4 linked regions of the Homo sapiens genome follow. The protein of the gene in region 4 interacts with the protein of the main gene of each other region in a pairwise test. Each region holds a gene or a part of one and is shown on either strand. Other genes may lie near its edges.

Region 1 (7,105 bases), on a different chromosome or scaffold from region 4:
TCACATTTGGGGAGTGTAGAAGAGTTTTTTGGATAAAGAGAAACTCCATGAATTGTATGAAAAGAGCCCTCTTCCTCTCTGGATTGTCCCAGGAGCCTGGCCACTTCTCAGGTGTGAATGGGGCATCAGCCCCTCACTCTTTTGTTTTTGAGACAGAGTCTCTCTCTGTTGCTCAGGCTGGAGTGCAATGGTGTGATCTCAGCTCACTGCAACCTCTGCCTCCCGGGTTCAAGCAATTCTTGTGCCTCAGCTTTCCCAAGTGGCTGAGACTACAGGTGCCTGCCAACATGCCCAGCTAATTTTTGTATTTTTAGTGGAGATGGGGTTTCACTATGTTGCCCAGGCTGGTCTCAAACATCTGGCCTCAAGTGACCACCTGCCTCAGCCTCCCAAAGTGCTGGGATTATAGGCATGAGCTACCACGCCCAGCTGCCTCTCACTCTTGATAGCCCCCTTGGACATCACCTTTGTCCTGACCTCCAAACCTCAGAGACTTCTGCTTCCTCACTCCAAAACACGCTTTGATCTCCTCTTGTTAAGTCAATGAGTCTAAGCTTTTGCAAACAGAGTGAGAGATCGCCTTCTGGAAAATTCTGCTTCTGGTGTCATATAATAAAAGTGCCTGAGGAAAGTGTGTAAAGGCTCAGCCATAATCCAAAGACAACACATTGTAGCTCCTAGATAGCTTTTGATTCTTTGAATGGAGTGAATTTTTCAGGATAGAAAATTCTTGGGCGTGGTGGCTCAGGCCTGTAATACTAGCACTTTGGGAGGCTGAGGCAGGTGGATCACTTGAGGCCAGGAGCTTGAGACCAGCCTGGCCAACATGGTAAATCCCCCTGTCTACTGAAAATACAAAAACTAGCTGGGCATGATGGTGTGCACCCGTAGTCCCAGCTACTCGGGAGGCTGAAGCAGGAGAATCGCTTGAACCAGGGAGGCAGAGGATGCAGTGAGCCGAGATTGTGCCAGTGAACTCCAGCCTAGATGACAGAGCAAGACTCTGTGTATTAGTCTGTTTCACACTGCTGATAAAGACAGGCTGGAGACTGGGAAATTTACAAAAGAAAGAGGTTTAATTGGACTCACAGTTCCACGTGGCTTGGGAAGCCTCACAATCATGCAGAAGGCAAGGAGGAGCAGTCGCATCTTACATGGATGGCGGCAGACAAAGAGAGCTTGTGCAGAAAACTCTTGTTTTTAAAACCATCAGATATTGGGAGACTCATTTACTATGAGTGAATTAATTCACTGTTCACTCATGCCTTAAATAGCACCCCAGTCACCTCTTGAATGCTTTGCTGCTTAAAAATTTCTTCTGCCAGATACCCTAAATCATCTCCCTCAAGTTCAAAGTTCCACAAATCTCTAGGGCAGGGGCAAAATGCCGCCAGTTTCTTTGCTAAAACATAATGAGAGTCACCTTTGTTCCAGTTCCCAATAAGCTCCTCATCTCCATCTAAGACCACCTCAGCCTAGACCTTATTGTTCATATCACTATCAGCATTTTTGTCAAAGTCATTCAACAAATCTCTAGGAAGTTCCAAACTTTCCCACATTTTCCTGTCTTCTGAGCCCTCCAGACTGTTCCAACCTCTGCCTGTTACCCAGTTCCAAAGTCGCTTCCACATTTTCAGGTATCTGTTCAGCAATGCCCCACTCTACTGATACCAATTTACTCTATTAGTTTGTTTTCACGCTGCTGATAAAGACATACCCGAGACTGGGCAATTTACAAAAGAAGAGGTTTAATGAACTCATAGTTCCATGTGGCTGGGGAGGCCTCAAAATCATGGCGGAAGGCAAAGAGGAGCAAGTCACATCTTACATGGATAGCAGTAGGTGGCAAAGAGAGGGCTTGTGCAGAGAACTCTCATCTTTAAAACCATCAGATCTCATGAGACTCATTCTCTATCACGAGAACAGCACAGGAAAGACCCACTCCCATAATTCAATCACCTCCCACTGGGTTCCTCCCACGACACATGGGAATTGTGGCAGTTATAATTCAATATGAAATTTGGGTGAGGACACAGCCAAACCATATCACTCTGTTTCGAAAAGAAGAAAAGAGGAGAGAAGAGAAGAAAAGAAAAGAAAATCCAGCCTAAACTTCCTTGGGTCCTGGGGAGAGGGGCTGGGTAGCGAGTCTGGCTTCTGTAAGTGAGTAGTCCAGGCCTTACACAGTGTGCTCAGGATCCAGATCCCAGCTCTGTTATCACTGTCTTGGCCCTATCCTCAGCCAGGCATCCGCCAGGGTCGCCAGCTGGCTGCTAGCAGCTCTGAGGGTTACATCCTTCATGTGGATTCCAAGTGCCTTGCCCCACCATGGCGCAACAAAATGTCTGGACTTCAGTTAGACCAACTAGGATCAGATTCTCTTCTCTAAATCAATTATTACGTGCAGGAAAGTGAGATTATATGGATCAGTTTAGCCCCGAGGCAAAGGCTCTGGCTTCTACCCCTAGATGCTGTGTGGTGTTCTGTGGGACTTTTAGGGAAGGTTGTGGGTCTCCAGAGAAGATCAGGGCGGAGGAGACAAATACAGAGTGGTCCCAAATGGCTGATGTTCAGCAAAAGTAAGAAAATTATACCTATTAAAGGAAGAACCATAACCACAAACTAACCTCTCTGCAGACCATCCCTCCACATGGCCAGGATGGAGGCGTGTGTGCAGAAGACCTGAGTGTGAGGGGAGCTAGGCCGAGGAGGGGCAGTGAGAAAGCTTTCCTGAGTAGCAATGCCCAGATCTGCGTGAGCTGGGTGGCCCAGGAGGAATTAGCCAGTTGGAGAAGGGAGCAAGGGTGTCTCAAACAGGTGACCGTGGGTGACGATGTTGGTGTGGTGCTGCTTAGCAGGCCATGCTCAGCAAACTTCCTGAGGTTTCATGTGGCTGGAGTGAAGGGAGGGGGAGTCAGGGGAAGAGGATGGGCAGGTGGCCTGAGGCTAGATCAGTGGGAATGTGGTCAGCCACTGGAATGTAAGTACCAAGAGCGGGGGGACTTTTTGGGCTCACTCCTGTGAACCTAGAACCTAAGGTCAGTGTCTGGCACATGGTAGGCAAAAACATCCTTCTACAAATGAACCCTGGCTAAGTAGCTTCTATTCTATCCTTGGTGAAATGAGCAGTCACTGATGAGTCCTATGAATGGAACTGACATGGATTATTTGTGTTATGAGGGTCAAATGAGAGAATGTACATGGTGGTGCTTGGTAAAGTAGAAGCTCCTGGAGACCATGTAACTGCGGTGCAATTGTGATCTGTGCATGTGAGAGGCTGTCAGCTGTCTCTGCCAGCGCGCCCAGTGAGCAATGCGTTTTCCACATGACCTCTTGCCATTGCAGACAGTCTGATGCCTCTCAGAGTCTAGAATGGGTGGTTTTGATGACAGCGATATGAGCATATCAAATAGATGTTCAGTAAATGAATGTATGAGTACATGAGAAGGCAAGTCCATGTTTATTCATTCCTCAGAACTTTGTTGAGTTCTTGCTCTGGGCCAGACATTGTTTTTCCTTTGGCAGTTTTAATTCTGCTGTCTCAATTCTTAGTGGGTGCAAAATGATAGTGGGTTCAACCTTCCCTTTATTCGTTCAAACAGTCCCTCTGCTTTTCTCCCTGTGCTTTTGCCTCTGGTGGTAGTGACAGTGTCAGTGTGTTCTGGGGGAAGGTAGCATGGGTGATGATGTCCGCCTCTTTTTTTAAACCTCCTGCAACTTAAACTGTGCCCTCAGTCAAATTAGCTATTTTGTCAAATCAACCACATGCTGCAGTATCTCTAGTCAACTACTGCTGGCTTTCAGCTTTCCACAGCTGAGACCCGTGTCCAAAGTTGTATTTTTTGTACTTTTTATAGATTTTTTTTCAATTTTTTGCATTATGGCTCTTCTCCCCTGATTCACCTGCTGATGCATTCATCTCCTGCCCTCCTCCTGGCAGGGGCAATCCAAGGGTAGAGTCCATGACTTTGGTGTCAGGCTCTGGCAGACTCTAAATTCCAGGTCACTGAGTTAGCATTGGTGATCTTCTCATTCTGTTTGATGTACAGTAGGCAAACTTTATAAATTAAATGATAAACCTCCCTCAAAGCCACTTGAAACGCTCAGCAAGGTCTATATTTCATGGCCCTGTGGGAGATGTGACAGCCATGATCTTGTTAGCCTTTGGGTGGGTGTTCTGTGTGGTATCACACTGCCCTGGTGGTCTAATGAGGAGCTGGACCCTCCTGCAAGCGCCTGCAGTACCAGGCAGCCTGCAGGAAATGCACTGTAGAGCTGCAGCCACCCACCTTGTGTGTAGGGAAGGAGAAGGTGAAATTGACTGAGGATGTCAAGTAACATGGAGGAAGTGTGACTTGGGGGATTGACTGAATGGGCTGTAGCAAAGTATAGGGCTGGAGAGTTCAAAGGAGTTTAGAGAATTTTTTGTGCACTGAAAATGGGTGCAGGAGGACACAAAATGGGATTTGAAGAAATCCATTTATTACGGTGTTTAGAGAAGGGGCAGACATGCTCATACCTATAATATATAATTTAGGACCATAATCCTGTTAGCATCAAATAGGACAGGTTGGAAGGGGGCTTGACTGACCACTTCAGAGGGGACTTCAGTTTTCCAGTCAAAGCCGGTGCAGTTTTGAAATAGGGAACTCATAATGGAAATAGGAGGTTAAATTGCATGGGTAGACTTGACTGAATTTGGCAGTAATTGGACATGGAGGGTGAAGAAGAGGAAGGTGATGATGAGTCTGGACACATTGGGCTTGAAGTGCTTGCAGGTCTTTCAAATGAAGAGATTCCATGGTCAGGTGGTCTCTGAGGGCTGGAACTCAGGAGGGGGCATGGGCTAGGGGCATAGGTGGAGTTGGTGGCTGAAGCCCTGGAAAGGATCAACATTACCAAGGAAGAGAGTGTAGAGAGAGAAGAGGTAAAGAGAGTGCCTGGAAAATGCGTGCACTTCCGGAGGAGAGGGAAGAAGAACCAGTGAGAGACGCTGAGAAGAAGCAACCACAAAGCCAGGAGGACGAGGAGATTGTGGTGTCATGGAAGTCAATGTCGCTTGGTGGCTTTCAGTCCCTAAGATGTGGCTTCTCAGGTGTGCTACAGCAGGTCCTTCAGGTTCTGTCCTGGTCTCCTCACTGGGCCCCCAGTTGCTTGTGTGTTGCCATTGCCCCTGGAGAGATCAGCACCTGCTGCAGGCCCTGTGTCCTCCACCAGTAACTGCTGCTACCACCACTCCGGGCTTATGGAACCGTCCCCAAACACTGCTGAGACCAAGCTGTAATTTCAACAAGATCTTTCTGAAGAGTTGAGGACAAAGAGGTGGGGAAAAACCCCCCAAAGAATTCTAGGCCAGAAGAATAACTTACAAGTACTTCTAGATGTCGCTATTCTCAGAGCTCCCAGGCAAGCTATGGCCTTGAGGTCCCTCCCAGGTCTCCTCCAAGTCTTCTTTACCCACTTCTCCTGGAGGTGCTCCAGGCCAAACTCACACAGTGAAGGAGGATGGTTTTCTCCCTTCTCTCTGAGGTCCACCTTCCAGGTCTTCTTTCCTTGATAAGGGTGACTGCTTCCCAAGTTGACTAAATGGGAAAGGTCACACACACCTCGCCTCCCACCACCATTGTTTGATGTTCAGTAGGAAAACTTTATAAATTACAAGATAAAACCTCCCTGGAAGCTAGAGAGGTTTTAGAATAGGGTGGTGTCCTATTCTTGCAACCTGGGCAGGACAGATAAGTAACAGAACAAGAGTACAACATCAGTACAGTCTGGGGTGTACCATCTCAACAACACATGTTGGTTGCCGGCCATCCATTCTGGAGGCTTTTCCTGACTTAATCATAGGGATGAGCTGAAACTCATGCCTGTGTATCCTTCTTGCAGTCCTGGGGCCTCACCTCTGGATCTCCTGCAATCAGCACCTGAGCTAGAATCCACATAACTCTCCAAGACAGCCATGTGGGAGAAAGTCATGTGATTTTGAAAGATTTGGTTTCACACATATGCTCTCAATGTAGACCCATTTCTCAACTGAGACCCATTTCTCTAGACGAATGCACTGTCCTCTAGGACTTTCTGTGATGATGAAAATATTCTGTATCTGTGCTATTCGATACGGTGGCCATTCGCCACATGTGGCTACTGAGCATTAGAAATATGGCTGGTGAGACTGATGAACAGAATTATTAATTTTATTATATTTTAACAATTTAAATGGCCTTATGTGGTTGGTGACTGCTGTATTGGACTGCCCTGGCCTAGGTTATTTCTAAGGTCTCCTGCATCTTGAAGCTTCTGTAACTATACTGTGTATAGCCTCGTTGGTGACAAAACTTTATCTCTTATCTCATCTGTTGTTTTTTTTTTTTGAGACAGAGTCTTGGTCTGTTGCCCAGACTGAAGTGCAGTAGTGTGATCTCGGCTCATTGCAACCTCCCTCTCCCAGGCTCAAGCTATCCTCCTGCCTCAGTCTCTGGAGTAGCTGGGACTACAGATGTGCACCATCATGCCCGGCTAATTTTTGTATTTTTTGTAGAGACCGGGTTTTGCCATGTTGCCCAGGCTGGTCTCAAACTCCTGAGCTTAAGTGATCAGCCAGCCTCAGCATCCTAAAGTGCTGGGATTACAGGCATGAGCCACCATGCCTGGCCTATCTCATCTTTTTTCTTTGCTTTTTTAGAGAGAGGGTCTGATCCTGTCACCCAGGTTGGAGCATTAGTGGCATGATCATAGCTCACTGCAGCTTTAAACTCTTGGGTTCTAGTGATCTTCTCATTTCAGCCTCCTGAGTAGCTGAAACTCTAGGCGTGCATTACCATGCCTGGATAAGTTTTTAATGTTTTGTAGAGATGGGAGTCTTGCTATGTTGCCCAGTCTGAACTTGAACTCCTGGTCTCAAGGAATCTTCCTGCCTTGGCCTCAAAGTACTGTGATAACAGGCATGTGAGCCACCGTGCCAGCGCCAAATCCTCATCTCTTAAGGGTAGAATTCAGTTCAATTTTTGGAAACAATCAAAAGATATTTAGCATTAATTGTATTGAGTATGGTACATAGTTGAAGAGATTTTAATATTATATTTTAAGATTACAACATATGTTACCT
Region 2 (7,105 bases), on a different chromosome or scaffold from region 4:
AGCAGGAGGTCACGTCTTTCATTCAGACGCTCCAATGCTTTTCATTTCAGTTTGTTAAAGAACGTGTTTTACAGGAAGTTCTTTACAGTAATTTCATGCCAGACACCAGGTTTCTTCGATGGTACACAGCTCCATGAAATTTGTGTTTCCATCCAGTTGACAGGAATAAAAAGGAATTTTTATTTTTGTCTTTTTTTGGGCCGTAGAGACGTAAAATGGTCAGATTCCTTTAGGAATAAATGAGGAAAAGGAGAGGAAAGAGAAGATCTGGGCTGTGCTGGTGCTGGTTTCTACTCATCTTTCGGAGGGTGTGACTTCAAGAGTTAAATCACACTTAGGCCACTACAATGATTAGTACTAGTTATCTTTTTTTAAGATGATAAAAAGGAAAGTATCCAATGGACATAAAAATGGTCAAAGGTTTTTTTACTGCAGGTCAATTTTTCCCCCGACCAAAAAATATACAAAATGAACATATAATTGGGAGGGTAACTCTGCTGGACATTCCAATTCACTCATCTGCGTGTCCCCCACACGGGTAAGGGGAACAGGCGTTCGGTTTTATTAGTCATGTTACAGCAGTAACCAGATGTGTTAATGGCAGCTTATTTACGGTCCATCGATCCTTTGAACAAGTATAGGAAAGCATGGCTGTCAGTCTCTGACTGCTCACATCTGAGCACATTCAGCTACCATGGAAACTACAAGGGAAGGAAAAATATATTTATTCCAAGATTTACTGGGAGTTTTAAGTGCCCTTTCTTCCACAGAGCCCCAGAGTGGTGACAAGGTGCTAGGGGCTGCTGTGTTTTCCAGCATGAGCTCCCATCCTCTGAGGGTCCTGAGAAGGATAGTGGATTGGTCCTGGAGCCCGCATGAAAGGAGGGGGTGGTCCCATTGGGTGGAACATGTGTGGCCCAAAACCTGCAGATACGAGAGAACAAATGTGTTAGGCTGGTAGTTTCCTTGATAACCTTTCAAACCTCTCAATCTTGCTAAGGTTAAAACCACCTACACATAAATCAAGGTTGACACGGGGCTTAAGCAAATGTCAGTTCACAAACTTACTTCCACTTGTTATTTCCTTGGTTTTAGAAACCTTTCCCCCACAGTCCAAAAAACTCCACAGCACTCAAGGTATCGCCTAGTATGTCATCTGAGTCTCTGCTATGTATCCAACATGCCAAATCCTACCAGACAGGATTCAGTCAGGATTTGGGAGATAAGAAAGAAATCAGGCTGATGGCAAAGACTGTGTCATCATTAACCTCAATGCTTGACACCAGAATGGAGGGTGCTCAGAAACCAGATTCTCTTCAGAGTATGGGCTCTCTGCCACAGGAGAACTGGCTACCTGTGATTTCCTTCCACTGTTAACACTGTCTACAGCAGTGCTATACGAAGTGCCAGTCCTCCACCTATTTCTGGCCACTCAAGACAAAGAGCTTGAGTCAAAATGTAAATTATACGACCAGGCACAGTTTAGTTCATCTGACAGTTTTTTTGGTAACAAGACTTTCTCAATGAAGGAAGGGGTTCACTGATTACATTTTGGCACAAGCTCCTGATCTTGTGGCAGACAGGTGATAAACACTTTGTAAAATGACACCCGCTCACAGCCCACACTGGGCAATAGTGCTCTAGGGCATCCATTAGCATTTAGTTTAGAAAAGGGAACAAATTGGTGATAGATCTTTGTAATCTAATAATCTTACTCTGCTGACACATATACGCGGATCTTTAGAAAACTGGCCCCTTTCTTCTCCTCGGCAGAGCAGGAGAAAGAAAAATTTCAGAAATCCCAACAGATCAACTTTACTGGTAGACTTCTACAGAGCAAACTCACAGGATTTGGATGTGTTGAACATGATGGTGAGGTTTATGAGACAGAACTTTCACAAGGATTTCTCTGGGCTAAGAAGGAAGATGGAAGTTACCTGGGGGTGGGGGTGGAGCAATGCCAGGGGGCGGTGGCAGAGCAATGTTCACCACAGCTGGAGGACCACTTGGGGGCAAGTTGAAGTAGTTGGCAGAGGCTTCTTCTTCTGCTGCAGGAGGAGGAGGAAGAGCTGGAGGAGAGAAAATAGTCAACACATAGAGGGGAGAACAATTGTGCAACGCTGTTTCTACCACCTTTACATTCTCAGAGGTCCTACTGGGAGAGTAGAGCGGCAACATGAACCAGACCTGGGTCCCATCTTCCAAAATAGGAACATCAGGGCAGAAAGAGCTTCTGAAGTCAGCAGGGAGTCTGCACTCACCTCCTGGCAATCCTGGAACAGGTTCTAGTTTGATCCCAGAGTCTGTAGTTCCATCTTTCTCTTTTTCTTTTCCTCTGGCTGCCTGGGATCTGGGAAACACACATGCATACAGTCGGCACTCTGGCCCACCTTATCTCACACCTCTGCTTCTTACATTCCCCAGTCCAATGGAGTTCCTTCGCTCTACCTCCTCCTCAGCACACACTCTTTTCCCATAAATGCCACTGTGCACAGTGAACAAGAGCAAAGGTTTTGACACCAGAAAAGACCTGGGTTCAAAAGCTGCTAGAACTATCATAAGGACCAGAAAAGGCAACACATACGTGTTTAGCACAGTGCTTACCACATAGGGAGCGCTCCACAAAGGCAGATGCTGCTATTAGCCATCACTTCCCTGGTTCCAAGTTGGAGACATGTTCCCCCTTTGAACTGGGTCTTTCACCTGTGTCTCTCTTATGCAATCATCACTTTTAAACTTAAAATAGCGATTCTTCCCTGTTTTATCTTCTCCACTGGACAATCAGCCTCTAAGGGCAGAATCTAGGTCTAATTCATTTATAAACCCTAAAATTCACCTTTCATGGCCTGGCATTATACTTGGCCTATAATAGCTAGTCACAAAAACATGAACCTTCAAAGGAGTAGATTATACACCAACCCCCTGAATACATTTCCAAAGCAGGGTTCTCCCAACATCCACAGGAATCAAGTATCACATAGAGAGTGATCTTTGAAAGATCTCTTTAAAGATCCTGTTCATTTAAGCCTGTTAACCAAAAGCCTACTAGTCTCCAGAAAATGAAATAGTTTCTTAAAAATCTAAGCAAAATGTCACTTAAAAATAGTTTAATTCTCACCTTCCCCATTTCACATTCAGTCTGCGGCCATTTACAATCAACTTATTAAAGGACTTCTCAGCAGCCACTTCTGCAGCCTGCCGTGTGGCAAACTGGATGAAAGCACACTGCTGTCTCTGCACAACAGTGATCGTCCGGATCTCTCCGAACTGGTAGAAATGATTTCTGAAGGGAAACAGGCAGAGAAAAATGAAAGTGGGAGTTAAAAAAGATGTACCCAGGAGACTGAAAATGGATTAACTTTCACTGACACACCACTAGGCAGGTGGGCCCCAAGGTTATCTGCCTAACTACCCGCAGGTCTCCACCCCATATCTTGTCCTACTGTGGGTGCTGCTGATTGAGAGAAGGAAAGAAAAATAATGAGTAAATAAAGGTTCTCAAACATCTCAGGGTTTTTTCCCATGGAGGAAAGGGGGTTCTAATAGGTTCTTTAAAGACCCTAAACCCTAGATAAGAGGTTGGCAAACCATAGCTCTCAAGGCCCATGAGCCAAGAAAGTTTAAAACAAGAATACGTGACAGAGACTGCATGTGGCCCACAATGCCTAAAATATTCACCATCCAGCCTCTTACAGCGAAAGTCTGCCAACCCCTGGGGGTTGTCTAGCTCACTTAGATAGGGTTTAATGGAGACAGGCTACCAAGGGCAGGTTATAAACTTACAGGAGTTTCTTCTCCACTTTATCTCTTTGGAAGAGGTAATTTCCATTACTATCTGCCCAGAAGTCTCATCTAGCCAAGCATAATACAAGCCAAAAATAACACAAATTTATCAAATGCCAGTCTCTTTAAAAACCAACAATTTAAACCACAAGAGTTTTATCATCGCAAAGCTCTCCCTCCTCTACATAATTCATCATACTTGGATGCGTGCCATCCTTTAAAACTTGGCTGTTAGGTCAAATAGAATCCTATGTCATTATTACCATATGCCAGGATGGATAAGCACTCTTTGAGCTTTGGTTCTGAGACAGGGTCTCACTCTGTTGCTTAGGCTGGAGTGCAGTGGTGCAATCACAGCTCACTGCAGCCTTGATCTCCCAAGCTCAAGCAATCCTCCTGCCTCAGCCTCCCAAACAGCTGGGACTACAGGCACATGCCACCACACCCGGCTAATTTTTTTGATTTCTTAGTAGAGATGTGGTCTCACTATGTTGCTCAGGCTGGTCTCAAACTCCTCGGTTCAAGAGATCCTCCCAAAGTGTTGAGATTACAGGCATGAGGCACTGTGCCCAGCCACATAAGCACATTATTACTGTGGCACCATAAAGGACAATTTTACAAAAATTCCAGTCAGCATGATACTAACAATAGAGAGACTACAGAAAAATGTATTTTGTACAGAATGATCATTCTTGCAGTTTTTGCAAATAAATTATTCCAGGGCAGTTAAAGGCAAAAATAACTCTCTAACTTATACCCACAAACCTTAAATCTGTCTCAGTAATGGTATCACCTAGACCACCAACATATAGTGTGGTGATAGTTTTATCCTCTGGTGGGTCCAGCCGAGGCATTGTTGAAGCCCGCTTTAGAAGCTTGTCAGCTACAGGATCATTGATTCCGTAATAACGGTCTTTAATATTCTGATCAGCAAGGGGGTCATCTGGATCTGTAGGCTTCTCATGTCTATGATTCAAGAAAAAAACAAGGCATAAAGGTGAAACGAAGGTGAAAAAATGATTATCTTCCAAGAGTAGCTACATATTAAAGTCCTAGATACATATTCTGAAGTGCCTTTTGAACTAGAAACTATGGTTTCTACCAAAATATAATTACCAAAATAGACCTAATACCAAGAGATTTACTGTATCACGGAAGGAATTACTAGCCTCCTAAAAGCCATTAGGCCATCTAGGATGCCAAACTTTCCTTATAAATAAATACTCTTGACATGATCCACCCCCTCCCGCCCCCCAGAAAGGGACACATGATTACCCCTCTCTAGGTCAATGATTCTTAACACATTTGGGGTGCTGTATTCCACTGAGAATCTGATTAAAGCTATGAACCTCGCCCCAGAGAAAGCACATACATTATTTTTTAGGGGGTGGGGTTAACCAATCCCAAATTAAGAACTCCTAATCCAGATGCTTGGCAGTCTTAACCAAAACATACACACCCTTTAGAAGTCTGACCTTACTTTGACTTCAACTATACATTGAGAGTCAACTCATTTAAACCATGGCAGTGAAGATTTACTTCTCAGGCAGAAATGTTTAGGGTCAGCATCTATATTGTATGGCATAGCAATTTAGTTTCCAAGGCTCAATTGTAAGTAAAAACTACAATTTATTCATGCTCTTCTAAATTTCATAGTTCTAAGACATGAGGTATACCACATTAGTTGTATGACCTTTAGATTTTAAAGCAGAAACAGTTTAAGTTAGGACCTCCCACTTCTTAGATGAGAAATCATCTGAAAGCAAATACTGAAAATGAGGCTCGCTCTTGCCTGTATGGACATTCCTCTCCTCTCTTACACTCTCCTTTCACCCAGAAGGAGCAAATGTGGGGTCGATTCCTTTTGTAGTAGGGTGTGGTCCGGGCCAGTTTGAGCAGCATGTCACTGGTAGATGTGGCTTTCCCCAGCATGCCAACTGGCCGTGTTCCATCAGAGTTAGAAATCTAAGTGGGGATGACAAATTCAAAAGATAAATTATACAGACTGTGTCAATTCATTAGGATTTTTATCCAAAAAGTGGCAGCATACCTCTCTCTCCATATTCTGTGTATAGTACTCTTTGTTGACATCTGACTTTGGCATGTCATCTTTAAAAGACAATCCTGCGTCACGAACCTGGATGGGCAGGCCTGGTACAAAAAAAGAGGAAAAAGACCTCAGATGTATTTTAAAACATATCCATACTAACCATGCACACAGAATACATCATCTTTCCCTTCTCCTCTTTCCTATTTAGTACCAGAGACTTTACTATGTTTTTATTCAAACTCTTTAGCACCATCAGGTTACTTCTGCTACACAGCATGCTAAGAAATTGTCCAAATTCCTGAACTGTCAGGAAATTTGATGAAATTAATGCTTTAGAAAAAATCTTTTAGGCTGGGTGTGGTGGCTCATGCCTGTAATCCTAGCACTTTGCAAGGCTGGAGCTGACAGATAGCTTGAGTCCAGGAGTTCGAGACCAGCCTGGTCAACGTGGTGAAACCCCATTTCTACAAAAAATACAAAAATTAGCTGGGTGTGGTGGTATGCACCTGTAGTCCTAGCTACCCAGGAGGCTGAGGTGGATCACCTGAGCTTGGAAAGGTTAAGGCTGCAGTGAGCCATGACCATGCCACTGCACTCCAGCCTGGGCAACAGAGTGACACCCTGTCTCAAAAACAAAAAACAAAAAAATTATAAAAGAAAATTTTTAGATGAACAAACTGTGCCCATGGTCATATTCAACCTGTAAATTAGCTCCTAGTTTTTATTACAACATGATTTATTTAAAGTAAATGTAAAAGTGGTTTCTTTCTAGGTTAGTCTTACAGATCCTCTGGATAGTCACAGTCATCTAAGGGTCACTGTACTCCAGGACCAGACGCCTCCTTAACAAACATATAAATAATATTACATAAAATGTGGCCAGGACTCTGACTAGAAGAGTAACTCTAATGAACTTAACATACATAAACTCATATATTTTTCCCTTTCCTTTAATAGTAAAAACTCTTGTTGAAAAATTATCTTTCTGAAAAACAGTCACCTATGGTTAAAAAAAAAATTACTCCCAAAAGCAGTTACTCTGAAACAGTAGCAATATATCAGTTCTAACAACACAATTGAAATAAAAGTCTAAAGCACAATTAGGCTGGCTATAGTGGCTCTGGGAGGCCAAGGTGGGAGGACTGCTTGAGGCCAGAAGCTCAAAACCAGCCTGGGCAAAATAGTGACACACACACACACGTGCACTGGGTGTGGTGGTATACCAGGAGGCAGAGGCAAGAGGATCCCTTGAGCCCAGGAGTTCGAAGTTGC
Region 3 (7,105 bases), on a different chromosome or scaffold from region 4:
TCAAGTGATTCTCTGCCTCAGCCTCCTGAGTAGCTGGGATTCCAAGCACCTGCTACCACGCTTGGCTAATTTTTGTATTTTTAGTAGAGACGGGGTTTCACCATCTTGGCTATGCTGGTCTCGAACTCCTGAACTGTGATCCACCCGCCTCGGCCTCCCAAAGTGCTGGGATTACAGGTGTGAACCACCGCACCCGGCCAGAACCCTGGTTCTTTAGGACAGTGACAGCCCAGAGTAGTCAGGGCCATCAGGCAGGAAGCTTAGGCAGAGTGTTGAGGGCTGGGATTGGGAACTTAGAAAGACAGAGAGATCCATTCAGCTTCCAGGAAAAGGAGACATTTTGGAGAGCCTGCCAGGTACAGTAAGCAGTATTTATGTTACACTGAGGGAGAAGAGCATTCTTAACTTGGTCCAGCTTGTTCAGATGTTTAGGGTCAAAAGAGCCTGGCGTATTCTGAGTATTACAAGTAGTTTTGAGGCTTGTAAATCATGGGGAAACTTCCAGTGAGCTGTGCACTGGTGGCTCATGGCTGTGAGGTGTTGGACTTTGCCCTGAGGGTGTTGGGGAGCCAGACTGCTTCCCTGTCCTGGCTGCCTCCCTGGTGGAATATCCTCCCAGCTGTGGAGGGTAAATGCGAATGGGCGAGGGGAGGCTGGAGAGTAGAGAGAGGCCCAGAGTCCCGTGGAATGAGTGAAGTCTGAGCAAGATTCATGGGGATGGAGTACGGAGAGGAAAACCAGAAATGTCACCACCAGGAGAATTTTTGACTAATTGCTTAAAAACAACCTTGACTGCTGTCCCTGCCCCCACCCAGCCTACACATTTTCTTGCTTCTTTCCTAGCCTGGTATCTATTTTACAAGTGGCTTCTGCTTCAGCTTAGCTTTTTTTTTTGAGATGGAGTTTCGATTTGTCACCCAGGCTGGAGTGCAGTGGCGCAATCTCTGCTCACTGTAACTTTTGCCTCTCTGGTTCAAGCTATTCTCATGCCTCAGCCTCCCCAGTAGCTGGGATTACAAGCGCCCTCCACCACGCCTAGCTAATTTTTTTTCTTTTCTTTTTTTTTTTTTTTTTTTTTTTTGGCATTTTTAGTCAAGACGGGGTTTCACCGTCTTGGCCAGGCTGGTCTTGAACTCCTGACCTCACGTGATCTGCCTCAGCCTCCCAAAGTGCTGGAATTATAGGCATGAGCCACCATGCCTGGCCAGTTTTTATGAAGGTTGGAGTCCAGTGGTGAGGTCATGGCTCACTGCAACCTCTGCCTCCCAGGCTAGAGTGATCCTCCCACTTCAGCCTCCCAAGTAGCTATGACCACAAGGCATGCACCACTATGCCTGGCTAATTTTTGTATCTTTTGTAGAGACAGGGTTTCACCCTATTGCCCAGACTGGTCTTGAACTCTTGAGTGCAAAGGATCTGCCCACCTCGGCCTCCCAGAGTGCTGGGATTACAGGTGTGAGCCACCATGCTTGGCCATCTCAGCCATCTTCTTTGCATAAGACATTGGTGCCCTTTGCAGACCTGGGTGGTGAGAGGGAGTCCATCCTTGTTGAGCTTGAATCTCACTTGCTGTCAAGTGATGCCCTTTGCTGGTGAGATGTGGTGGTACCGGGTTCAGATGGAATACGTGGACTGGGCTCTGCCATACGCTTCCTTATGCCCTCCAGATTGATGCCCTGGGCCAGTGAGGAATCCTCTGAGAACCTGTTTCCAGTAAAATTGGGACAGTCATAGTTGCCACCTAATGGGTTTGTTGTGAGGAAGTGAAGTTACCTCCATAAAGCATTTGATGGGGGTGCGATGACTCATGCCTGTAATCCCAGCACTTTGGGGAAGCCAAGGCAGGAGGATCACTGGAGCCCAGGAGTTCAAGACCAACCTGGCCAACATAGGAGACTGTGTCTACAAAAAATAAAAAATTAGCCGTGCGTCGTGCTGCGTGCCTATGGTCCCAGCTCCTTGGGAGGCTGTGGTGGGAAGATTGCTTGAGCCTGGGAGGTCAGGCCTGTAGTAAGCTACCATCATGCCACTGAACTCCACCCTGAGCAGTAGAAGGAGATTCTGTCTTTAAAAAAAAAAAAAGGCACTTGATGGTATCTAGTCAAATGTTTGCAGCCAGGTGTGGTGGCACACTCCTGTAATCCCAGCACTTTCGGAGGCCAAGGTGGGCTAATTGCTGAAGCTCAGGAGTTCAAGACCAGCCTGGGCAACATAGCAAGACCCTGTCTCTGCACAAAATCCAGAAATTAGCTGGGCATGGTGGCATACACCTGTGGTCCCAGCTACTCCATAGGCTGAAGTGGGAGGACCGCTTGAGTCCGGGAGGTTGAGGCTACGGTGAGCCATGATCATGCCACTGCACTCCAGCCTGGGTGACAAAGTGAGACCTTGTCACCAAAAAAAAAAAAAAAAAATTGTGGTGGAGTCTGTGCTAGGCTTGGCATACTGCAGTAAACAAATGGGACAGGCTTATAGCTCCTCAGGCAAGATAGACAAGTTAACGTACCATGACAGGAGGTGGGAAATAGTCATGAAAGAAAAGGAAGTAGAGTAAGAATGACATGGGAAGAAATTTAGACGTCGTGGTCAGAGGTGGCAACATTTCCTCTGAGACTGGGTGACTAGAAGGAGGCCACCATGTAAACCTCAGGGGAGGGATGTTCCAGGTAAAGAGAGCAGCCAGTTCAAAGGCCCTGGGGCAAAATTGGTGTGTCAGACCTGGGGGCCAGTGTGGTTGGGAACTCAGGAGGGCGGTGGAATGTGGGCAGGGATGAGGTGGGGGAAATCTGCCAGGGCCACGTCATGCAGGCCCATGTCAGGGTGCTGGTGGCAGTGAAAAGAATCACTCATTTATCGAGTGTTTACTACGTGCCGGATGCTGTCCTGAGCACTTTGCATGTATGTGCACATGTTCATTATATAGCAGCTCTCTGTAAGCACATCTTACAGAAGAGTAGAAGAGTGTACTTGGCCACTTGAGTGGTTCCTGGCTGCTTCTGTGATTGTTAGGTCTTGAGAGATTATGGACCCGAGGCATTCTGGGTACCCCATCAATTGGCTGATGGTCTTCTATTTGGGCTGCGCTTCTTCTAAAAAGGGGAGCTCAAAGGTCTTTTTTTCCCCCACTGCAGAGCTAAAAAAGTCCCTGTACGCCATCTTCTCCCAGTTTGGCCAGATCCTGGATATCCTGGTATCACGGAGCCTGAAGATGAGGGGCCAGGCCTTTGTCATCTTCAAGGAGGTCAGCAGCGCCACCAACGCCCTGCGCTCCATGCAGGGTTTCCCTTTCTATGACAAACCTATGGTGAGCATTGCGGGTACGGAGGCTGTGTGGGTGTGTAAAATGTTATAGGAGACTGGGCGGGCCTGGATTAGAGGAGGGGATATTACGGTTCATTTGCCAAGGTGAGGCTGGACCAGGCTCCCACTGCACCTTGCCTCATTTAAAAATCTTTTCTTTGGCCGAGGGCGGTGGCTCACGTCTGTAATCCTGGCACTTTGGGAGGCCGAGGCAGGTGGATTACCTGAGCTCAGGAGTTTGCAGCCAGCCTGGGCAACACCGTGAAACCCTGTCTCTACTAAAATACAAAAATTAGCTCGGTGTGGCAGCATGCACCTGTAGTCCCAGCTACTCCTGTGGCTGAGGAAGGAGAATTGCTTGAACCCGGGAGGCAGAGATTGCAGTGAGCCGAGATCCTGCCACTGCACTCCAGCCTAGGCAACAGAGTGAGACTCTGTCTCAGAAAAAATAAATAAATAAATAAATAAATAAATAAATTATTTTGAGACAGAATCTTCCTCTGTTGCCCAGGCTGGAGTGCAGTGGTGCAATCTTGGCTCACTGCAACCTCCACCTCCCGGGTTCAAGTGATTCTCCTGCCTCAGCCTCCTGAGTAGCTGGGATTACAGGCACGTGCCACCATACCTGGCTGATTTTTTTATTTTTAGTAGAGACGGGGTTTCGCCATGTTGCCCAGGCTGGTCTCAAACTCCTGAGCTCAAGTGATCTGCCTGCCTCAGCCTCCCAAAGTGCTAGGATTACAGGCGTGAGCTACTGTGCCACACTAAGAATCTTTAACATACCTTCCCCTACTGAATAAGCACCATGAAAGAGGGGTTTTTGTCTATTTTGTTCATTGCTTTATTCCCAGAGCCTTGAATGGCGCCTGGCATCTGGCAGGTTCTCCTTAAACAGCTAAGTGAGTGAGATTGAACCTGGAAGACTGAAGTATTCTTGTGTGACAGGAAATCCCCCTGCACTGCACTCCTCTCCTAGCATTGTCTCCTCGGTCCTTTGGCCTGATGTTTATTGCTGTTCCAGCTTCCCTTAAAAATACCAACAGCCTTTCTACTGAACACTTGCTTACTGTGTGTCAGGTACTGTTCCAAGCACTTTAACTCATTTAGTCCTCACAACAGTCCTTTGAAGTGGGAAGTATCATAATCCCCATTTTTCAGACAAGGAAGTTAAGGCCAAGATATTTCTGTGTTTCTCAGTAAGCTCCTGATAAGGTCTGAATTTTTTTTTGTTTGTTTGTTTTTTGTTTTTTGTTTTTTGCTCTGTTGCCTGGGCTGGAGTGCAGTGGTGCCATCTCAGCTGACTGCAACCTTCGCCTCCTGGGTTCAAGCGATTCTTCTGCCTCAGCCTCTTGAGTAGCTGGGACTACAGGTGCGCACCACCATGCCCAGCTAATTTTTGTATTTTTGGTAGAAATGGGGTTTCCTGGCCAGGCGCAGTGGCTCATGCCTGTAATCCCAGCACTTTCGGAGGCCGAGGTGGGTGGATCACCTGAGGTCAGGAGTTCGAGACCAGCCTGGCCAACATGGTGAAACCCTGTCTCTACTAAAAGCACAAAAATTAGCCAGGCGTGGTGGTGGGCGCCTGTAATCCCAGCTAGTAGGGAGGCTGAGGCAGAATTGCTTGAACCCGGGAGGCAGAGGTTGCAGTCAGCTGAGATCTCATCACTGCACTCTAGCCTGGGTGACAGAGCAAGACAATGTCTCAAAAAAAAAAAAAAAAGAAAAGAAACAAAGAAATGGGGTTTTGCCATGTTGGCCAAGCTGGTCTCCACCTCCTGGCCTCAAGTGATCTGCTCGCTTTAGCCTCCCAAAGGGCTGGGATTACAGGCATGAGCCGCAGCACCTGGCCCCTGATAAAGGTCCAATTTTGAATCTTGGCAATTGGGCTCTGAATCCACGCTCTTAACCCGTTCTGCTCTCTGTTTGGTAGCGTATCCAGTATGCCAAGACCGACTCAGATATCATTGCCAAGATGAAAGGCACCTTCGTGGAGCGGGACCGCAAGCGGGAGAAGAGGAAGCCCAAGAGCCAGGAGACCCCGGCCACCAAGAAGGCTGTGCAAGGCGGGGGAGCCACCCCCGTGGTGGGGGCTGTCCAGGGGCCTGTCCCGGTAAGCCAGGTCCCGGAGACCAACCCTCCCACTGCCAGACCTTCCTCAGCCACATGGACTGGCTTTGGGACAGGGTGGGGAGAGTTCTCCCCTTGGGGCTTCAGACCCCTCCTTTCCATTTCTTTATAGAGATGTGTTTCTCTCTCTCTTTTGGGGGGTATTGAGCACCTAGATGATGCTATCTCCTTTCGAAACTCTTGTTCCCTCCTTGTGACTGTTTCTCAAGGTCTTTCTTCATGGCTATGACTTGGTTTCGCTCTCTCCGTGGCCTTGATTTTGTCGCCTGTGTCTTGTAACTCATTGTGCATGTAGAAAATCCAAGTGTCTACTAAGCAACTGTTAGGATTAATAAGTGAACTTAAATTTAGAAAGATCGCTGGATATAAAGGCAATATGGAAAAAAATTAGTTTTATTTATTTATTCATATTATGTTTTGAGACAGGGTCTCACTGTCACCCAGGTTGGAGTGCAGTGGCGCCATCACAGCTCACTACAACCTCCGCCTCCCAGGCTCAAGTGATACGCCTCAGCCTCCCTAGCAGCTGGAACTGTCAGTCCGTGCCACTCCACCCAGCTAACTTTTGCATTTTTTGTAGAGACGGGGCTTAGCCATATCACCCAGGCTAGTCTCAAACTCACTGTCTCAGCCTCCCAAAGTGCTAGGATTACATGCATGAGCCACCATGGCTGGCCCCCAGTTTTATTTTTATATGCCAGTAACAGACCAGTAGACTTCACATTGAAAAGTAGCACTGAGGGGTAAATCCAACAAAAGGTTTGCAGAACGACTACACTGAAATCACAGAATGTAGCTGGGAGAAATCAGAGACTCAGCAATGGATAGGAAGACTCAGTATTGTCAAGAGGTCAGTTCCATCCAAATTAATTGAAGATTCAACGTGATTGCAATCAAAATCCCACCAGGAATTTCGGTAAACACTGGACACTGATTGGCTCTTTCTAAATGTGTGGAAAGACAAGGCCAAGCCAGGCGAGGAGAATAAAGCACCAGGACCTGCATGACCAGGGGAAGCTCCAGCAACCAGGCCAGGCCCAATGGCTCATGCCTGTAATCCCAGCACTTTGGGAGGCCAAGATAGGAGGATTGCTTTAGGTCAGGAGTTCAAGACCAGCCTCTATAAAATAGCAAGACCTCATCTCTACAAAAAATAAAATAGAAAACTGGGCGTGGTGACTCATTCCTGTAGTCCCAGCTGCTCAGGAGGCTGAGCTGGGAGGATCGCTTGAGAACTGGAGGTCAAGGCTGCAGTGAACAGTGGTTTTGTCACTGCACTCCAGCCTGGGTAACAGAGTGAGACCTTGTCTCTTTTTTGTTTTGTTTTGTTTTCTTTTGTTTTTTTTCGGGAGGGAGTCTCAGTCAATCTGTCTCCCCAGGCTGGAATGCAGTCGTGCAATCTCGGCTCACTGCAACCTCTGCCTCTCAAGTTCAAGTGATCTTCTGCCTCAGCCTCCCAAGTAGCTGGATCACAGGCACATGCCACCACGTCCATGTGCAAAAAAAAAAAAAAAACCTGCAGCAACCAACCAGGATGATATACAGTTGGCAGAAGGGTAGGAAGACAGACCAAGGGGACAGGATGAAGAGTCTAGGTACAGCTACACTTGTATAATTACTTGATGTGTGATCGAGGTACCACTGCACTTCACTGAGGAAAGGACTTTTTTTCCCCTAG
Region 4 (7,105 bases):
GCCCTGTGCACCCCCTGCCCAGTGGTGACAACCCAGAATGTCTCTAGACTTGGCCAAGAGCCCCCTGAGGAGCAGAGGTGCCCCCAGTCCAGAACCTGTTGGAGGGTGGGAGCCCCATGGTGGCCTGCAGGTGTGCCACTAGTTCCTTTAGTCCAAGGAAGGGGCCAGGCACCATCAGCTTCCGGCACCAGACCCTGCTGTGGGGGTGCCTAGAGAGTTAACCTCACTCTCCTGGTTTCTTCCCAAGAAGGCGGGTGGCATGGGCTTTTTCCTGCTCTGGGCCTGCTCTCTCCCCTGTCTTGGTGTCGCTGTCCTCAGTCTGCATGAACCATTCCCCCTTTGTGTGCCCCTTGCAGCCAAGACACAGCCAGGATGGGTGACTTGAGCCGGAGGCACCTAGGAGAGCTGCCCTTGCTGCGCCTGGCAGGGGGCAGTGTGAGGCCATCGCTTTAAATTTTTTTTTTTTTTTTTTTTTGAGACAGAGTCTTGCTCTGTTGCCCAGGCTGGAGTGCAGGGGCGCAATCTCAGCTCACTGCAACCTCCGCCTCCTGGGTTCAAGCGATTCTCCTGCCTCAGCCTCCCGAGTAGCTGGGATTAGAGGCACCTACCACCAGGACTGGCTAATTTTTGTATTTTTAGTAGAGACAGGGTTTTGCCACGTTGGCCAGGCTGGTCTCAAACTCCTGACCTCAGGTGATCTGGCTGCCTTGGCCTCCCAAAGTGCTGGGATTACAGGCATGAACCACCACGCCTGGCCACTTTTTCTTTTTTAAAAAATGTTTAGAATTGTTTCTGTAGAGTCGTGGTCTTGTTCTGTTACTCAGGCTGGTCTCGGACTCCTCTCTTCAAGCCTCCCACAGTGCTGGGATTATAGGCATAAGCCATTGTGCTGGCCAGGTGGTCCCTTTTCTGTTCTACTCTCTCCCACCCTCATGCCTCCAGGATGAGCTTCTGGCCTTCTAGAAGGAATGAACTGGAGGAGGCCCAAAATGGCCTCTCCTGAGGCTGATTTGAAGGAATGTGGGGTGTTTTTCTTGGAGTGGGGAAAACTTAGGTATGCGGTGGTTATCTCCAGATACCTTTTGTTCCCTAAAGCTTTTTTAAAAAAATGATTATTGTGGTAAAATATACAACAAAATTTGGAGACTTTAACTGTCTCTAATTGTGCCATTCTGTGTTACTAAGTACACTCACATTGGTGTGCGGCCATGACCACCAGCGGCCCCAGGATCCCCTCCTCAGTTGAGGCTCTGGACCCTTCAGCAACAGCTCCCTGTCCCCTCAGCCCCTGGTGGCTGCCCTTCTACCTTCCTCCCTCAATGAGTGACTGCTCTAGAGACCTCATGAAAGAGAAGTAAGGGGTAGCTCTCCTTTTTTGGCTGGTGTGTTTCTCTTAGCGTGATGTCCTCAAGGCTCATCCAGTCCCCAGATTGCTCTAGGTGGCCACCTGCAGTCAGTGACAGGCTGGTGGCTTTTCATGTCATGGAACACACCACCACTGGAGCATCCAGCCGAGGCAGAGGAAGGAGAGGTCCCAGGGGAGGCCAGCCTGGCCTTGGGTTGCCTCTGAGCCCGGTGTTTCCCCCTGGAGTGCCTGGACTCTGAGCAGGCCTCGGCTTGTCATGGGCTGCTGGCTCAGCTGGGGCTGATGGCCTTTCCTCCTCAGCACCCTGGTTGAACCCGCTTCCTCTTCTTTCCCAGACTGTGGCGTCCTGGAGTTGATGGGAGCTGCAGCACCAAGCCGGGCCAGCCTCCCTCCCAGCCAGTGACAACACCGCAGCACCTGGACCCCGCCCACCCGCTTGAGTCCTCTGCCTGGGGCCCCAGGGATGCGCCTCCTCCTGAAAGTCCCCTCCATCCTCCCTTAGAGGAACAGGCTGCCGCCGCGCCCCCATCAGCCTCCATTGCCCTGACCTTATTTCCACCTGATGGTGCCAGAGGCTGCTTCCCAGCTGGTATCCTGAGATCCTCGTTCCCTTGGTGGCTTGGTTGTTTAAGCCTCCATTATTGATTGGGGGCGGTGGTCTGGGTGTGATTCCTGTGGGGGAAACCAGCCCGAGGTGCCTTGGCTCAGGCTTGCCTGCCTGGAGTCCTTGTCGTGTACCCGTCTGTGGCCCTAGAGTCACCTCCTGCTCCTTTTCACTGGGTTTCTCCCCAGACCAAGCCCCTGGATTTGAGCTTCTGAGCAGCCAACTGATTTTTTTCATGAGGGAAAGAATTTTGCTCCTAGATTTATTTCTAATCCTTTTCTCCGTAACTGACCTTTTCTCTGTAAGCTATTTGTGGCTCTAGTGGGTTTTTGTTTGCTTGCTTGTTTTTGTTTTATCTTTGCCCTGAACGTCCATCCTGGCCTCGGCTGCCTCCCTCCCCGAGTTCTTCACTACACCTCCTGTCTCAGCCTCCCAGAGAGGGTGGCGAGGGTGCTGATGCCCAGAGACACCATCCGGCGAATGGACCTCTCCTGTCATGCGGGGCAGGGCAGGGCTGCCGGCAGAGCCATGTCCTGAACCCTCCCTCCTCCCCCCTGCTCTCCTTAAGGGTCTTTCCCAGATGTGAAGGTCCCTCCCAGGCTCTACTGAGGTCAGACCAATTCCCAGTGGCTTGGGTACCCTCGTTCACTCCAGCACCAGCCCCTGCCCTCCTTCTTCCCGGGCCAGGCTGCCAGGTGAGCCCCGGGCCAAGGGTGGTTGCCCTGCTGAGGCCGAAAGGACTCGAGCTTCCCATCTCCTCGCCTCCCCCAGGTCTTTCACCGTCTGGACTCATCTCTGGGTAACTCATGGTGTGAGTGGCCACGTGGCTGGCTCAGGTGAGTCCTTTTAGACCCCAGGTGACCCACCAGCTAGTCCGGGGCCCATTGTTGTGCCCACTAGGATGTCCCCCATGGTGTCCTCCCTGCGCTTTAAAGTTCTCCTTCGTGTGCTGTTCTTCATGGCCCCTGTTCCCCCACAGGTGTTTGGACAGTGAACGCCAGGTCCCCTCCTCCCCACCCCCGGCCTCTCAAACACGCCCAGCCCCACGATGGCAGCAGAGACACTCAACTTTGGGCCTGAGTGGTGAGTCACTTGTGCCTCGGCTGCCGTGGAGATTCGAGAAAGCACAGTCAGGCTGCCCTGACCTCTGTCTTCTTCTCTCTGTGTTGTGTCCAGGCTCAGGGCCCTGTCCGGGGGCGGCAGCGTGGCCTCCCCACCCCCGTCCCCTGCCATGCCCAAATACAAGCTGGCTGACTACCGTTATGGGCGAGAGGAAATGCTGGCTCTCTACGTCAAGGAGAACAAGGTGGGTGCGTGGGCGAGGGGGGTTGGCGGTGGTGGCCTCTGCCTGTGGAGGGGATCTGGCAGCATGTGGTGTCTTGGCTGTCCCAACCCACTGCCAGGTCCCGGAAGAGCTGCAGGACAAGGAGTTCGCCGCGGTGCTGCAGGACGAGCCACTGCAGCCCCTGGCTCTGGAGCCGCTGACTGAGGAGGAACAGGTGGGACCGGGCCAGGAGCTGAGGCTGCGGGAGCCTGGGAGGGGAGGCCATGGGTTGGGTTAGGAGGAGAGGGGCCAGCGCTGAGGAGACAGGCGGGGAGGGTGCTGTGGGGTGGGGGTGGAGGTGGTTGGGTGCCTGGGTCCTCACTCCCGCCCCTGGCTCCCTCCTCAGAGAAACTTCTCCCTGTCAGTGAACAGCGTGGCTGTGCTGAGGCTGATGGGGAAAGGGGCTGGCCCCCCCCTGGCTGGCACCTCCCGAGGCAGGGGCAGCACGCGGAGCCGAGGTAGAGGGGTGATGGCGTGTCCTGGGGACGGGCAGATCTGGGCCCCTGACTTCGAGAACGTGCAGCAGGTTTCATTGTGCGTCTGGCCTCTTCTCTAGGCCGCGGCCGTGGTGACAGCTGCTTTTACCAAAGAAGCATCGAAGAAGGCGATGGGGCCTTTGGACGAAGCCCCCGGGAAATCCAGCGCAGCCAGAGCTGGGATGACAGGTGGGGCGGGGAGGGGGCATGGCGCAGAGCCGGGCAGGCCAGGGAGGGGAGGCCTGGGCCCTGTCGCTAGAGGGTAACAGAGGCCCACCAGATAAGCCCTGTCCGAGATCCCGGTGCTCCTGACCCCTGGTTTCGTTTGTCCCCTTCCTCCCTCCACTGCCTCAGGGCACAGTGGACAAGGCATGGGGCGGTTGCACAGGGTGGCAGGGGAGGCTGTACTGTTTCTGACCCACACGTTTCCCCTGCTGCAGAGGCGAGAGGCGGTTTGAGAAGTCAGCAAGGCGGGATGGAGGTACGAGGCTGCTGAGGGCGGCGGCCGGGGCGGCAGGGAGGACCAAGATGGGTGGCCCAGTCTGGGGGTGCTTATTTCGGAGGTGTTGGGGGCAGGAGGGCCTGGAGCTGGCCCCCCCAACGTTTCTTGAGGGTCCAGGCACCACGCTGCCTTTCTAATAACTGCCCCTGTCTTCCCGTCTCCCAGCACGATGTGGCTTTGAGGAGGGAGGGGCTGGCCCAAGGAAGGAGCACGCCCGCTCAGACAGCGAGAACTGGCGCTCCCTACGGGAGGAACAGGAGGAGGAGGAGGAGGGCAGCTGGAGGCTCGGAGCAGGGCCCCGGCGAGACGGCGACCGCTGGCGCTCCGCCAGCCCTGGTGAGATTGGGGCCTGGTAGCATTGGCGGGGGCAGTGGGGAGCAGGAACTGTAATGAGAGGGTGGGCTCCTGTAGCCACGGGGAGGGAGCAGAGGCTGGCTGGTGTGGGAGTGGCCGGGACAGCAGCCCTGGAGGTGCTCCGTGAGCTGCAGCAGAGGGGGCCGCTGGCTTCGCTTGGGTACCCACTCTTCTTCTCCCTGACTTTTCCTGTGCAGATGGTGGTCCCCGCTCTGCTGGCTGGCGGGAACATGGGGAACGGCGGCGCAAGTTTGAATTTGATTTGCGAGGGGATCGAGGAGGGTGTGGTGAAGAGGAGGGGCGGGGAGGGGGAGGCAGCTCTCACCTGCGGCGGTGCCGAGCGCCTGAAGGCTTTGAGGAGGACAAGGATGGGCTCCCAGAGTGGTGCCTGGACGATGAGGATGAAGAAATGGGCACCTTTGATGCCTCTGGGGCCTTCTTGCCTCTCAAGGTATCTGTGAGGAGGCGAGGGTGGGAACCTGCCCTTCCGGGGTCCTCTTCCTCCCCACCCACCCCAGCTGTTCTCTGCTCCCCACCCCGGCCCCATGCAGAAGGGCCCCAAGGAGCCCATTCCTGAGGAGCAGGAGCTGGACTTCCAAGGGTTGGAGGAGGAGGAGGAACCTTCCGAAGGGCTAGAGGAGGAAGGGCCTGAGGCAGGTGAGCCGCGGGGTGCCCAGCGGGCCTGGGGCTGGGCCGGGCAGGCACTGGTGTTCTTTGCCGGGCTGGGCATTGGCTGCCCACCTACCTGTAGAATCAGGCTACTTAGATCTGGAAGAAGAGTGCTGAGAGGTGGGGAGGAACCAGGGGGTAGCAGAGCCATGTCTTCAAGGCAGTGTACCAGATAGAAATCAGGCGTAATCAAAATGACCTTTGAAAGTCCCTTGAAGAAGCTGTAGAACCTGGAGTGACGTCTGCGGTGTTGTGTGGTGTTGTGCGATGTTGTGATATGTTCCTGCCGCGTCTGGCAGCGTGGAGGCGAGGGTCAGGGCACCGCATTCCCTCTGCCATTAGTTGAGTTGACCCAAGTGAAGTGGTGGACTCGGCCTAAGGGAGTGTGACCCGCGGTTCCAGCCACACTCAAGGGCTTGTGCTAACTCGCGTGGCAGGCCCAGCCCTTGGTTCTGAACTCTGGCCATCTCCCTCTTCTAGGTGGGAAAGAGCTGACCCCACTGCCTCCTCAGGAGGAGAAGTCCAGCTCCCCATCCCCACTGCCCACCCTGGGCCCACTCTGGGGGACAAACGGGGATGGGGACGAAACTGCAGAGAAAGAGCCCCCAGCGGCCGAAGGTAGGAAGGGAGGATGGCCTACCTCCCGGGTGCGCTGGGGCTGTGGGAGAAAGTGCTCCCCACTCGTGGGGGTGGGCACACAGGGCATTCACATTGAGGAGCCATGGCAAGAGCGTGGTGTTCTGGAGTGAGAGTAGGCGAAAGCTATCTTGTCTCCTCCCCGCCCTTCTTTCCACCTCCTATCTCATGCCTTCCAGATGATATTCGGGGGATCCAGCTGAGTCCCGGGGTGGGCTCCTCTGCTGGCCCACCCGGAGATCTGGAGGATGATGAAGGCTTGAAGCACCTGCAGCAGGTGTGGGGGCCTGAGAAAGCGGGAGGGACCCTTCCCACTTCTGACCTGACCTGCTTGGCCCCAGCCCCGGCCCCAGCTCAAGCTCCATCCCCATCCCCATCCTGATGTTGCTGAGATTGGCAGCTGAGCCTTTCTTCTTTTTCTGGGCATCCAGGAGGCGGAGAAGCTGGTGGCCTCCCTGCAGGACAGCTCCTTGGAGGAGGAGCAGTTCACGGCTGCCATGCAGACCCAGGGCCTGCGCCACTCTGCAGCCGCCACTGCCCTCCCGCTCAGCCATGGGGCTGCCCGGAAGTGGTTCTACAAGGACCCACAGGGCGAGATCCAAGGTACCTGTGTGGGATGGGAGGGCTGCTCAAGGCCGTTCTGGTTCAGGGTGTCTCTGGCATACCCTGTGACCCCAGTGGTTCTCCCGCTCCCTCGCTCCCTGTCCAGGCCCCTTCACGACACAGGAGATGGCAGAGTGGTTCCAGGCCGGCTACTTTTCCATGTCACTGCTGGTGAAGCGGGGCTGCGATGAGGGCTTCCAGCCGCTGGGCGAGGTGATCAAGATGTGGGGCCGCGTGCCCTTTGCCCCAGGGCCCTCACCTCCCCCACTGCTGGTGAGCCGCTTCTCCCCTGCATGGAGGGACAGGGTGTGAGGGGTGCCGGCAGGAGTCCAGCAGAGTCCCCTCCTCCCTGCTGGGGGCACTGGCCGAGCTCTCACCTGAGCAGGGAAACATGGACCAGGAGCGGCTGAAGAAGCAACAGGAGCTGGCCGCGGCGGCCTTGTACCAGCAGCTGCAGCACCAGCAGTTTCTCCAGCTGGTCAGCAGGTATGGGGGGCCTGGGGTGGGCTGGGAGAAGGCCCGGCGCTGGCTCTGTGGCCCACCATCTCCACTGTCCCATTTGCAGCCGCCA

Evidence for each region.
Region 1: the proteins of GIGYF1 (region 4) and FAM124B interact in binary tests that used the Homo sapiens proteins (3 or more experiments, as listed by UniProt).
Region 2: the proteins of GIGYF1 (region 4) and RBM22 interact in binary tests that used the Homo sapiens proteins (3 or more experiments, as listed by UniProt).
Region 3: the proteins of GIGYF1 (region 4) and SNRPA interact in binary tests that used the Homo sapiens proteins (3 or more experiments, as listed by UniProt).

Annotation. Positions count from the first base shown.
Region 1 is NC_000002.12:224,392,021-224,399,125, reverse strand, and holds part of FAM124B (protein FAM124B), read left to right. Parts: intron 1-7,105.
Region 2 is NC_000005.10:150,690,958-150,698,062, forward strand, and holds part of RBM22 (pre-mRNA-splicing factor RBM22), read right to left. Parts: intron 5,935-7,105; coding exon 5,834-5,934; intron 5,749-5,833; coding exon 5,576-5,748; intron 4,750-5,575; coding exon 4,549-4,749; intron 3,284-4,548; coding exon 3,119-3,283; intron 2,351-3,118; coding exon 2,262-2,350; intron 2,070-2,261; coding exon 1,938-2,069; intron 925-1,937; coding exon 794-924; 3' UTR 1-793. UniProt on the Homo sapiens protein: Required for pre-mRNA splicing as component of the activated spliceosome. Involved in the first step of pre-mRNA splicing.
Region 3 is NC_000019.10:40,754,201-40,761,305, forward strand, and holds part of SNRPA (U1 small nuclear ribonucleoprotein A), read left to right. Parts: intron 1-3,131; coding exon 3,132-3,304; intron 3,305-5,230; coding exon 5,231-5,410; intron 5,411-7,105. UniProt on the Homo sapiens protein: Component of the spliceosomal U1 snRNP, which is essential for recognition of the pre-mRNA 5' splice-site and the subsequent assembly of the spliceosome. U1 snRNP is the first snRNP to interact with pre-mRNA.
Region 4 is NC_000007.14:100,684,152-100,691,256, reverse strand, and holds part of GIGYF1 (GRB10-interacting GYF protein 1), read left to right. Parts: intron 1-1,701; 5' UTR 1,702-2,665; intron 2,666-2,741; 5' UTR 2,742-2,806; intron 2,807-2,949; 5' UTR 2,950-3,018; coding exon 3,019-3,053; intron 3,054-3,146; coding exon 3,147-3,276; intron 3,277-3,373; coding exon 3,374-3,469; intron 3,470-3,640; coding exon 3,641-3,752; intron 3,753-3,850; coding exon 3,851-3,959; intron 3,960-4,210; coding exon 4,211-4,251; intron 4,252-4,437; coding exon 4,438-4,608; intron 4,609-4,823; coding exon 4,824-5,077; intron 5,078-5,177; coding exon 5,178-5,283; intron 5,284-5,775; coding exon 5,776-5,913; intron 5,914-6,110; coding exon 6,111-6,208; intron 6,209-6,362; coding exon 6,363-6,534; intron 6,535-6,640; coding exon 6,641-6,807; intron 6,808-6,916; exon of another isoform or gene 6,917-6,919; coding exon 6,920-7,020; intron 7,021-7,099; coding exon 7,100-7,105. UniProt on the Homo sapiens protein: May act cooperatively with GRB10 to regulate tyrosine kinase receptor signaling. May increase IGF1 receptor phosphorylation under IGF1 stimulation as well as phosphorylation of IRS1 and SHC1.